3 linked regions of the Homo sapiens genome follow. The protein of the gene in region 3 purifies or fractionates together with the protein of the main gene of each other region. This does not show direct contact. Each region holds a gene or a part of one and is shown on either strand. Other genes may lie near its edges. The genes, in order: ACAA2, DNAJC18 and SLC9C2.

Evidence for each region.
Region 1: the proteins of SLC9C2 (region 3) and ACAA2 purify together in Homo sapiens (affinity purification with mass spectrometry; one large-scale study listed by BioGRID and IntAct). This does not show direct contact.
Region 2: the proteins of SLC9C2 (region 3) and DNAJC18 purify together in Homo sapiens (affinity purification with mass spectrometry; one large-scale study listed by BioGRID and IntAct). This does not show direct contact.

The regions. Positions count from the first base shown.
Region 1 is NC_000018.10:49,803,468-49,807,124, reverse strand, and holds part of ACAA2 (3-ketoacyl-CoA thiolase, mitochondrial), read left to right. Parts: intron 1-3,657. UniProt on the Homo sapiens protein: In the production of energy from fats, this is one of the enzymes that catalyzes the last step of the mitochondrial beta-oxidation pathway, an aerobic process breaking down fatty acids into acetyl-CoA.
Region 2 is NC_000005.10:139,409,665-139,412,733, reverse strand, and holds the end of DNAJC18 (dnaJ homolog subfamily C member 18), read left to right. Parts: 3' UTR 1-2,531; downstream 2,532-3,069.
Region 3 is NC_000001.11:173,526,536-173,530,192, forward strand, and holds part of SLC9C2 (sodium/hydrogen exchanger 11), read right to left. Parts: intron 3,520-3,657; coding exon 3,370-3,519; intron 180-3,369; coding exon 128-179; intron 1-127. UniProt on the Homo sapiens protein: Involved in pH regulation.

The sequences.
Region 1 (3,657 bases), on a different chromosome or scaffold from region 3:
CAGTGCCCAGCCCACTATCAAAGTTGACGCATTTTTGCCTGGATTCATTTTGTTTGGTATATAGATGTTTTGTTGTTCCAGCACTGTTTGTTGGAAAGACGATCCTTTTTCCAGTGAATTGCCTTTCCTCCTTTGTCAGACCTTGAGGTTCTGGCTTTGTTTTTTAATCTTTTTTTTTTCATCTGTTCTTCAGATTGGTTAATTTCTATTTATCTATCTTCAAAGTCGCTGAATTTTTCTCCTTTCATTTCTATTTTGCTGTTAAGCCCATCCAGGGAATTTTTTATTTCAGGTATTTTCCAGTTTTGGAATTTCCATTTTGGATTTTTATAGTATGTATTTCTTTACTGAGATGTCCTATGTTTTATTAGGAGCATATTTTCCTCTACATCCTTGAGCATAGTTGTAATAGAATGCTATTTTAAAATCCTTGTCTGCTAATTTCAGTGTCTGGGTCTTCTTGGGATTGGTCTCTGTTGATTGTCATATTTTTTGTTTCCTCATATGTGGATTAACTTTGAATTATATTATGAATATTGCAGATGGAACATTGTGGAGACTGGATTCTGTTATAATCCTGCAGACAGAACTGACTTATTGATTGGTTGGCTATTTATTTTTTGTAGACAGTTACTTTGCCTACAAAATCACCCCCATGCACCCCCGTGATAAACTATGTCTCCCCTTGTAGTGGGCAGCAGCTTAAATCTAAGTTCAGTTTTTTAAGGCTTGGCTTAGGTGCTTGTGGTCTGACCTACACATGAATGGCTAAGGAGTCAGCCAAATATTTGGGCAGAGTTTATATGTGAAATTTGGAATCTCGCTCTATGGTGCTCCTCTTTCCCAGATTCTCATTCACTTTCTAGTGGCTGTGCTTACCATGAATTTTATTCTCTGATTCTTCAAGCCAGTAAGACTGTTTCTGAGTTCTAGCCATTCCATGCATCATGGACTGTTAGTCTTCAAGTTAGTTGCTATAAATAAATTGGACACTTACCCTGTTCTGTTCCCTTCCTCTAAGTATCAACTCTTCTCCTTACCTGTCTAGTTTTGTTCATTTCCAAGACCGTCAGGTAGTAGTTGTTCTTATATATTGTCTGGAGTTTTTCATTGTTATCTGTTGGAGGGTTGGTCAGATAGGAGCATAGTAGGCCATGACCAGAAGCAGAACTAATGAAATTAGGAAGAAGGCATGGAAAGAGGAAAGAAGAATGAAATAAAGCAACCACTGATAGGCCAGGTGCAGTAGCTCATGCCTATAATCCTAGCAGTTTGGGAGGCCAAGGTGGGAGGATTGCTTGAGCCCAGGAGTTCGAGACCAGCCTGGGAAACATAGCAAGACCCCATCTCTACAAAAAAAAAAAAGAAAAAAAGGTAAAAATTAGCCAGGTGTGGTGGCACATGCCTGTAGTCCTACCTACTTGGGAGGCTGAGGCAGGGGGATCACTTGAGTTGGGAAAGTCGAGGCTGCAGAGGTCGAGGCTGCAGGGAGCTGTGATCACATCACTGCACTCTAGCCTGGGCACAGAGCAAGACTGTCTCAAAAAAAAAAGAAAACACTGATATAAAAATAGGCAGAGACTGTTAAGGAAGGAGGATGAAAGGAAACTTGAAAAGATTCAGGAAGGCATCATGGTACAGAATAACCAATTTACCAGAACAAAACGTTTGTAATGCACTCGACTAGTATTTATGGCCTTTTGTAACTATCTGAATTTGTATCTGTAAAAAACTGAGTGGATCTGTTCTAAATTATAGTTATATATATTGCTCCTAATATTCCTTTAAACTGCAAATTTCTCAAAATAGGAATGAAAAGAGAGGTTGAAATAGAAATATTTTAGGCTAGGCTTGGTTTGTTTGATGAAAGAGATCATAAACTGGAAGATTATACTTAGATACCAGTAGTGGTATAATGCTTGAATAGTCTCATTTGTAGATCAGTATCTTATCACAAACCCATTGCCGAAAGTCCCATAATTTCTTGACAAGATGTGGAAATGTGAGCTTAGATTGTCTTGGAGAGAATAAAGTTAGTATATGCAAAGTGCTAGCATGAAGTCTATTCCATAGTAAGTGTCCCCTCTATGTTAGCTATAATATTTACCTTGCAGAGTTGCTGGGAAGATTAGCTTTTGTGTGGAAAGTGATAAAATGTCTAGTATTTAGTAGACACCTAATGAATGTCAATATGATGAAATGGCTATAACTGATGCTGCTTACTGATATGCCGGTTTTGCACTGTACAGCTCTAATGATGATGAGTGGGTACCACTCACATCATAATCATATATTTGTATAGTCACAAGTTTTTTTTTGGCAGATGGTAGTAGGTGATTGGGAAGGGGTGATTTTTATTTATTTGTACAAGGACACCGATTTAACTAATAGTGATGCTGCAAATTTATAGTCTTAGTTTGTATTAGTAGATGTATAGATAATTCCTCTATTCTTTGTGATTAGATAAAATGCATGCTATTTTTGTTATATTCTTATATTCTAAGGGACACATTTTAATAGGATGTTGGCAAACTACAGTGTCTTTAGAGGAAAGCAGTCAGAATTAATGTCAAATAAAAAACTATTGAAAGAATGCCTTTAATTTACCTGAGATGAGAGTCACTAGGTTTGGGGACTTACAGGTTAGCTGACTTCAGATACTGGAGGTGGGGGATACACATGTAGAAGGTAACCTGTTTTGCCCATTTTTTTTCTAAGAGTAAAAGATAATAGTTCAGGTTATTTATTTGAAGTCTGTAACTTGAGTCATCCTGTGACTCTAGAACCGGTAGCAGCATATATTCTAGAAACTACATCTCTATCTGTGTTGGTGCTTTTGGAGAGAACTAGAATTGGTGGATGGAAGACTTTGTAAGCTGAGTTAGTTCAATATAAAGAAATATCATTCGTTGGGGCCGGGAGTGGGTGACTCACGCCTGTAATTCTAGCACTTTGGGAGGCTGAGGTGGGTGGATCCCCTGAGGTCAGGAGTTCAAGACCAGCCTGGCCAACATGGTGAAACCCCGTCTCTACTAAAAATACAAAAATTAGCCGGGCCTGGTGGTGGGTGTCTGTAGTCCCAGCTACTCGGGAGGCTGAGGCAGGAGAATCACTTGAACCCGGGAGGCGGAGGTTGCAGTGAGCCGAAATCGCGCCACTGCGCTCCAGCCTGGGCGACAAGAGCAAAACTCTGTCTCCAAAAAAAAAAAAAAAAAAGCAATATCATTAGTTTATGTTGTCCATGACCAGCACACTGTTTCATGCAGTAGAGTATGCCCTCTTACTGAAAGTTTCCTGGCAGAGGTTTAGAGAGAACCTTTTGTCAGGAATTTTTAGAGGTAGTTCTTATAGAGTGAGTGGTTGACCTCAGACAACCCTAAGGCACCTTCTAGTTTGGAGATTCTTTTATTCTAATACTAGGCAATATACTCCAGCACATAGAAGAAGGATTTTAGTTCTCAACATATGTTTCTAGCATTGTGAAGCATCAGAGAACAAGAAAGTTGTCTAACCAGAATGGCTTTACATCACAGTGTAGCAGGACGAGCCACAGTCAAAACTCCTCAGACACTGGATTAAAGAAGGAAGAGGCTTTATTTGGCTTGGAGCATCCACCAACTTGCGTCTTAAGAGCCGAGCTCCCTCAAAAAGAAATTC
Region 2 (3,069 bases), on a different chromosome or scaffold from region 3:
CACTGGTGACTAGGAAGAATTCAGTCACTGCCTGGGCTGTGTGGTTCTGGGCCTTCCTGTGGAGCTGAGCTGCCTGAATTATCATGACTCTGAACTTGGAAGGATCATTAAGTGACTGTAGCCTACACTCCATGCTTCCTTCATATTGGAAGAAAAGTTTCTGGTAGAGAGTCGGCCGGGTGCACTGGCTCAAGCCTGTAATCCCAGCACTTTGGGAGGCTGTGGCAGGTGGATCACCTGAGGTCAGGAGTTCAAGACCAGCCTGGCCAACACAGTGAAACCCCATCTCTACTAATAATACAAAAATTAGCCAGGTGTGGTGGCACATGCCTGTAGTCCCAGCTACTCGGGAGGCTGAGGCATGAGAATCGCTGCAACTTGCAAGGTGGAGGTTACAGTGAGCTGAAATCACGCCACTGCACTCCACTCCATCTCAAAAAAAAAAAGAGTCTACATTAAACAGATTCCAAAGTAAAGTTTCTTCATCCCAATGCATGGCCATGATTTACACAGACGTGCCTAGCATGGCTCATCAACATCTGAACGGTTGTTCCCTACCATGCCTCTGCAGGCATTCCACAGAGTCAGGAGATGGGTTCACAGGTAAAGATTGGGGGCTTTAGTGGCTTGTAGGGGACAACTGCTCAGTTGCAGGGAGAGGGAGCATTTCTAGAAATAGCCAGATTTTGCTGCCCAACTAGATCTGTCCTCCTGGTTTTAGGGGGCCCTTCTTGATCCCCTCTGAGTGACTGAGGGAGGTTACATTGTAAAATATGTCCATGAGCCAAACAGGCTTATGGAAAGTTCTTCTACACACAAAAAAATCAAAGCTCTCCTCTCCCCATCCCCAACCACTGCTAGAAAATTGGCCATAATGAAACTGACTTGACAGGTTAAAAGACCCTGTCCTAGATGCCCAGGAATCAGGTAGTCACACATTTTATGGACTTCATGGCAGCGATAAGTAATCTGTGATGATACTAAATAGAAGCAATAATAACTAACTCCATTAAATGTCACGCTGATTGTCTGTTTTTATAGCACCGATGGTACTGTTTTATTTATTGCCAATAGACCACAACATTCACATCTGTTTTTCCTCAAGGGAACCGTATTTGCTTTTGGTTGAAGGATTTATCTATTTGATACTATCCAGAATATTGTGAAGCTATAATTTCCTGGGTTATATTTTAGATGGGTTGTCTGCATGGTGGTAAAATAAGCTTTTTCCTCTCGCCTACGTCCTTTGGAAGATCTCCTGATCATACATAACTAGGTAGGGCTTATTCTTGCTGCCGGAGCTTGGCACCCAGCTCTAGACTGTTTCTTTGAGCATTACTGCAGATTGGAGACGTGTGTGAGAGGAGCAGCGCTCAGAAATAGGGCTTGAGGCTCAAGCAGAAACTGAAGCTCTCATTCAAATGAAGATGCTCTCTCTACCGCACGATCGGCAGTGAGAAAAGGAGGATGAAAATCCTTCTCATCACAAAGAGCTTGAAGGAACCCACGTCCCCAGATTAGCAACCCTAGAGTTCATCTGCTCAGGCCGGGAAATGTGTAAGCTTCCTTGATCAGCTCCAGGCCTCACAGCACGGGAGCAGTGACCAGTAAGGAAACGTCACTGCTGTGCTTTCTGTTGGAAATTGTTCGAAAATACAGTGAACTGGCCAGGCCCAGTAGCTCATGCCTGTAATCCCAGCACTTTGAAAGGCTGAGGCAGGCAGATCATTTGAGGTCAGGAGTTCCAGACCAGCCTGGCCAACATGGTGAAACCCTGTCTGTACTAAAAATACAAAAATTAGGCGGGCATGGTAGCACGTGTCTGTAATCCCAGCTCCTCAGGAGGCTGAGGCAGAAGAATCTCTTGAGCCTGGGAGGCAGAGGTTGCAGTAAGCTGAGATCACATCATTGCACTCCAGCCTGGGTGACAGAGCAAGACTCTGTCTCAAAAAAAAAAAAAGAAAGAAAAAAGAAAATACAGTGAACTCCAGATGCCACTGGAACATGGGTTCCAGCAGCCTGGCCAAGCTATGTGTCATTCTTTTTCCTCATGATACCCAGGATGGGCTTTGTGAGGAGGCACTGTGCCGTTCCAGTGGCTTTCTGTTACAGCTGGCCACACCATACAAGCAAGTACATCATCTGCATGCACTGCTCCTCACAGGAGCTTGCACTTCATTCATATTTATTCTGCCCTCATTTAAGGTATAAGCTTAGTGTCCTAATATATTTATTTTTGGAAAGGGCCAAGTTACAAAACATCTTTTTTTTGAGGCTGCACTGTTGATATGTCATGCAGTGGCCACCAAGAAAGTATATACTCGTGTTAGATACTGATTACATCATTTACATCACGCTCAGTATTTGGAATTAAAGATGTGAATGTTCTGTGACCAGAGTAGGGATGACACAAATGGAATCAGCTCCTGGTGGACTAAGAATCTTGAAAAAATCTGGCCACCTCATCCACTACATCTGGATTGAGTGTACTGCAACAAAGAAAAACATTAAACAATTTTATATTAAAAGAATGGCTACTTTTCCTTGGTTCTTTTACCTTTGCCCATGGCATCCTTGGCCACTGCACATCGCCTGACTCCCTTGGAGCCACTTCCGACTAAAGAAGCTTTTGACGCCTGCTCCAGTCTTCCCTCACCCGTCAGTGGGATTATTTGCATTTAGAATAGTAGATAGCATTGTTGGCATCAGTTCCACATTTTCTATCAGATAACAGCAGCTGCAGTACCTCACAGCCAATATACAGATCAAAACTACACTTAGCATCAGAAATTCAGGTGTTATCCCAGTTCCTTGCTGGCTTTGGTCCTAGTGGCCCATATTTAGGAAAGTTTTGGTTTAAAAATATAGTAAATGATATTTACATGATCCTAACTGGTCATGATAGCTTTCATTTGAAAAAGAAAGTGAGATGAGATTCAATTCAGCAATGATTGAGAACTTACTCTGAGCCAGGTGGGCTGGGTTTTTGGAATGGGGGTCAGGGAACAGGTGAGGCCCAGCACCAAGACTCCTGGAGCTCACATCTAATGGGGAGGCCAGGCTTTCCAC
Region 3 (3,657 bases):
TTTAATAAATGCTTGTTGAATGCATAAATGAATGAGCAAGTAAATGAAAGCATGAATTGTTCTTCTTTTATTAAATTATAGGACAATAAGGTATGACTTTAAGAACTCAGATACTTCAACTACCTACCTAATTCTTTGACAGCATCCTGTTTGTTGGTTTCCAAAATTTCACATAGTTTCTGTAAAAAATTAAGAAAAACATGTATTTCTTATTATTCATATAGTTTCTGTAAGAAATTAAGAAAAACATGCATTTCTTCTTATATTCCTGAGAAGCATACTTATTATACCAAGTATAGTTCTGGCTTTCCTTTTATTTTTATTTTTTGAGACAGAGTCTTGCTCTGTTGCCGAGGTTGGAGTGCAGTGGTGCAATCTCAGCTCACTGCAACCTCCACTTCCCGGGTTCAAGTTATTCTCGTGCCTCAGCCTCCCAAGTAGCTGGGATACAAGTGTGAGCGACCACACCCAGCTGATTTTTGTATTTTTAGTAGAGATGGGGTTTCTCCATGTTGGCTAGGCTGGTCTTGAACTCCTGACCTCAGGTGATCTACTCACTTCTGCCTCCCAAAGTGCTGGGATTACAGGCATAAGCCACCACACCTAGCCTGGCTTTCCTTTTAAATTCAGAGAAAAGGAAGTATGGTAGAGGACATTTCACCTAGTTTTAGAAAAGCTATTGGCTCATTTCTTCCCTCTGGGTCAATTCTGCTGCTTTGCCCATGCTCAGACGTCAATCTCAATGAGTCTAGTACAGTCAGTAGCTTGCATAACTACCTTGCCTAATAGTTATCAGAAAAGATCAGTATGTACTCCACTGTGCACCAAGGAGAATTCTCATAGCGCCTCATTTGGCAGTGAGCCAAGTGAGCAGCTAGTTGGGAAGCCAGCCTATCAGGAGCACAAAAAGAAGTGGAAAAATGAGAAAATACGATATTGATTAGTTCATATTTCTAACAAATAACTCCTTAGATAACTGAAGAAATCACTGCACTCCAGGGCTAACCAATCTCTGTTCAATCAATCATACAACAGGTATTTGTTGGATGCCCACTATGTCCCAGGCACTTTTCCTCTTAAAGCTTACCCTCCAGCTTTGAGTCACTGGGGAGTTTGCACTTGGCTACACCAACAGTCCTGGAATCACACAACTGACAGTTCTTTAGGGTTGTCAGGTACAGATGTCTGAAACTCTGCCCCAAATAATGCATGGCATAGTGCTCTTTATAGGGAACACCTGGTTTGTTATCTAAAGTTTAAGCAAAGTTAAGTTTTTGTGGGGTTTTTTTGTTGTCTTTGTTTTGGTTTAGAAAAAAATCGCATGTAATGAATCCCTCATTTTGAATATAAGAATAAGGTATGTAATATTTATTAAATTATTTCTTCTTACTCGATAACATTGCATCAATATTGGGAAGGTGCCAAATTACTAGCCTGTCCATGGCACCAACATATCCTAGCCCAGCCCTGCTTGCATAGGTGCAAAGAAAGCAGCTAGGCCCCCTTCACACCAAACTAGACTTACAGCAACCCTGTAAGACTGCTCTAGAACGCCTTTGCACAAAAGCGCATGGGACCTGACTCCTGCCTACAAAGAGAGCATAATCATGAAAGCCTGGGCATACATTTATTTTTCTTAAGGTGAGCTGCCACAGGCCAATTTCCAGAACCAAGTCAGTTTCAGAATAAACACCAGTTAGACATCTAAACACATCTCAAAAGGCCATTTAAATCTTTACTGGTGCTTCTTTCAAAATGTCACAGGGGATTCACTTCACCTGTGACACGTCAAGGCAACTGCCCTCAGATCTCTGCATCTTCTCCCAAACTCCTGAAAACACATTCTTAACTCCCCCCACTGTCTCTTGTTTTTCTTCTCTCTTCCTCCTTCTGCTGAAATCTTTTCTCCTATGAATAGCTCTGTGTTCTTTCTAATGCAGATCAATCCAGCCTTTGAGTAGTTCTTTTAATTTTCTTCTCCATTCTTCAAAGTAAAGCAACAGGACAGAATTCTGTTACACATTAATGTTCAATCCAATAAAGGTAGATATCTTCACAGCCTCTTTTCCTCTTCTTATTTCAATAAGTAAAGAGCCTCTCTTGACTGAGGTAACGTAACCGTCACCACAAAAAATAGGCACCGTAACCAGAAGACATAACCTCTAGGCCATCCATGGTTTTATGTATCCACACATAATCATTGTAGTAATCAGGATTTAAATCCATCTCCAGTTAAAAATCAAGAGTGTAACTTGGGCTGAGAAAACACCTTTCAGCTGTTGATACTGTTCACCTTAGCCCCTCATTGACACGTATGAAAATATAACCAAAATCACCAAACACTGGGGGCAAAAACAGAATGAAATATAGAAACCAAACACAATGAATAGGAGAGTGAACCCCAAGGAAGCAGAATTAACACAGGAAGCAAAATATCTTTTAAGATGAAAAGAAGATTCTAGATAATATTATGTTAATTCTTTTAAAGCAAACAGTTGTTATGAAAAGGAAGCAACCACAGTTTTTGGAGATCAAAAAGTAATTGTCAAAAAAAATTAAAAAGTTTAATAGATGGGTTGAACAGAAGAAAGAACACAACTAGAAATTTAAAAATCTGTAACCTGGAAAATCAATTGAAAGATTCTCACTGCAAAGAGCAGAGTTGACAGCTATGAGTGAAAAATAAGGAAGTTTTTTATCTAAAGAATGCGAGTCTCCTCTACATTATCAGGCCCAAAGAAGCATGAGAATGAGAGAGCAGTCACGTTCCACTTTCCCCACTCTTTTGCGAGTGACTGGTAATAGACAGACTGGTGCGAGGGAGCCTGGTTAGGAGAGGATTCACTCCACCTCTAGGCTCCCATCTAGTACTTACAGCATAGTGGCTGGAAATGAAGAGGGTCTTAAATGATAAAAAATAAATACTTCTACTCACCCACCCCACAGTACCAGGATTTCAACTTTTCACTATCAAATCTTTGTTCTCTTTTCCTCTCTTCCTCTTCACTTAAGACTTACCCTTTCTTTGAAGCCTTTTTCAAGTCTCAACTCCTGCATACACCTTTCCAAGTGCCCTGTCTTTTAGAGAGTGTTACAGAGACATACTAGATCTCTTCTCTATACTCTGCACTCAGAAAAGAGATCATATGTTTTCTGCCATGAAGATAATAAATGAGTTTGATGATAACAGCTGAAATGTAATGATCAGAGACTGTTCTCTGTAGCACCTCATATGATATAATAAACAACTGAATCCCTTTCAACTGTTGGAATTTGTCTGTTTCGTCAAACACACATAGAACTAGTCTTAAAAGAAGTTAATACACCTAAGGGGTTTTTCTCCCCAAATGACCAGTGCTTGTTTCTCACCTGATATATTGATTCACAGACAGCTATTTGTTTTATTAGAAGTTTGGCATCTTCTTGACTTTTGATATAGCCTTTTGTAATACTATACATCAAGCTGAGGCGCTTTTTGATCTGCACATCTGCAATTCTTATCAGTATTGGTACTATTATCTGGAATAATGAGAAGAAGAAAAAAAAACCTGTACATTTGATGAGGAAAAGCACCCTCTGAGGCAGAAATTCATAAAGTGTCATCTCCAGACCAGCAACAGCAGAGCCCACAAACTTGTTAGGAATGCAAAATCTCAG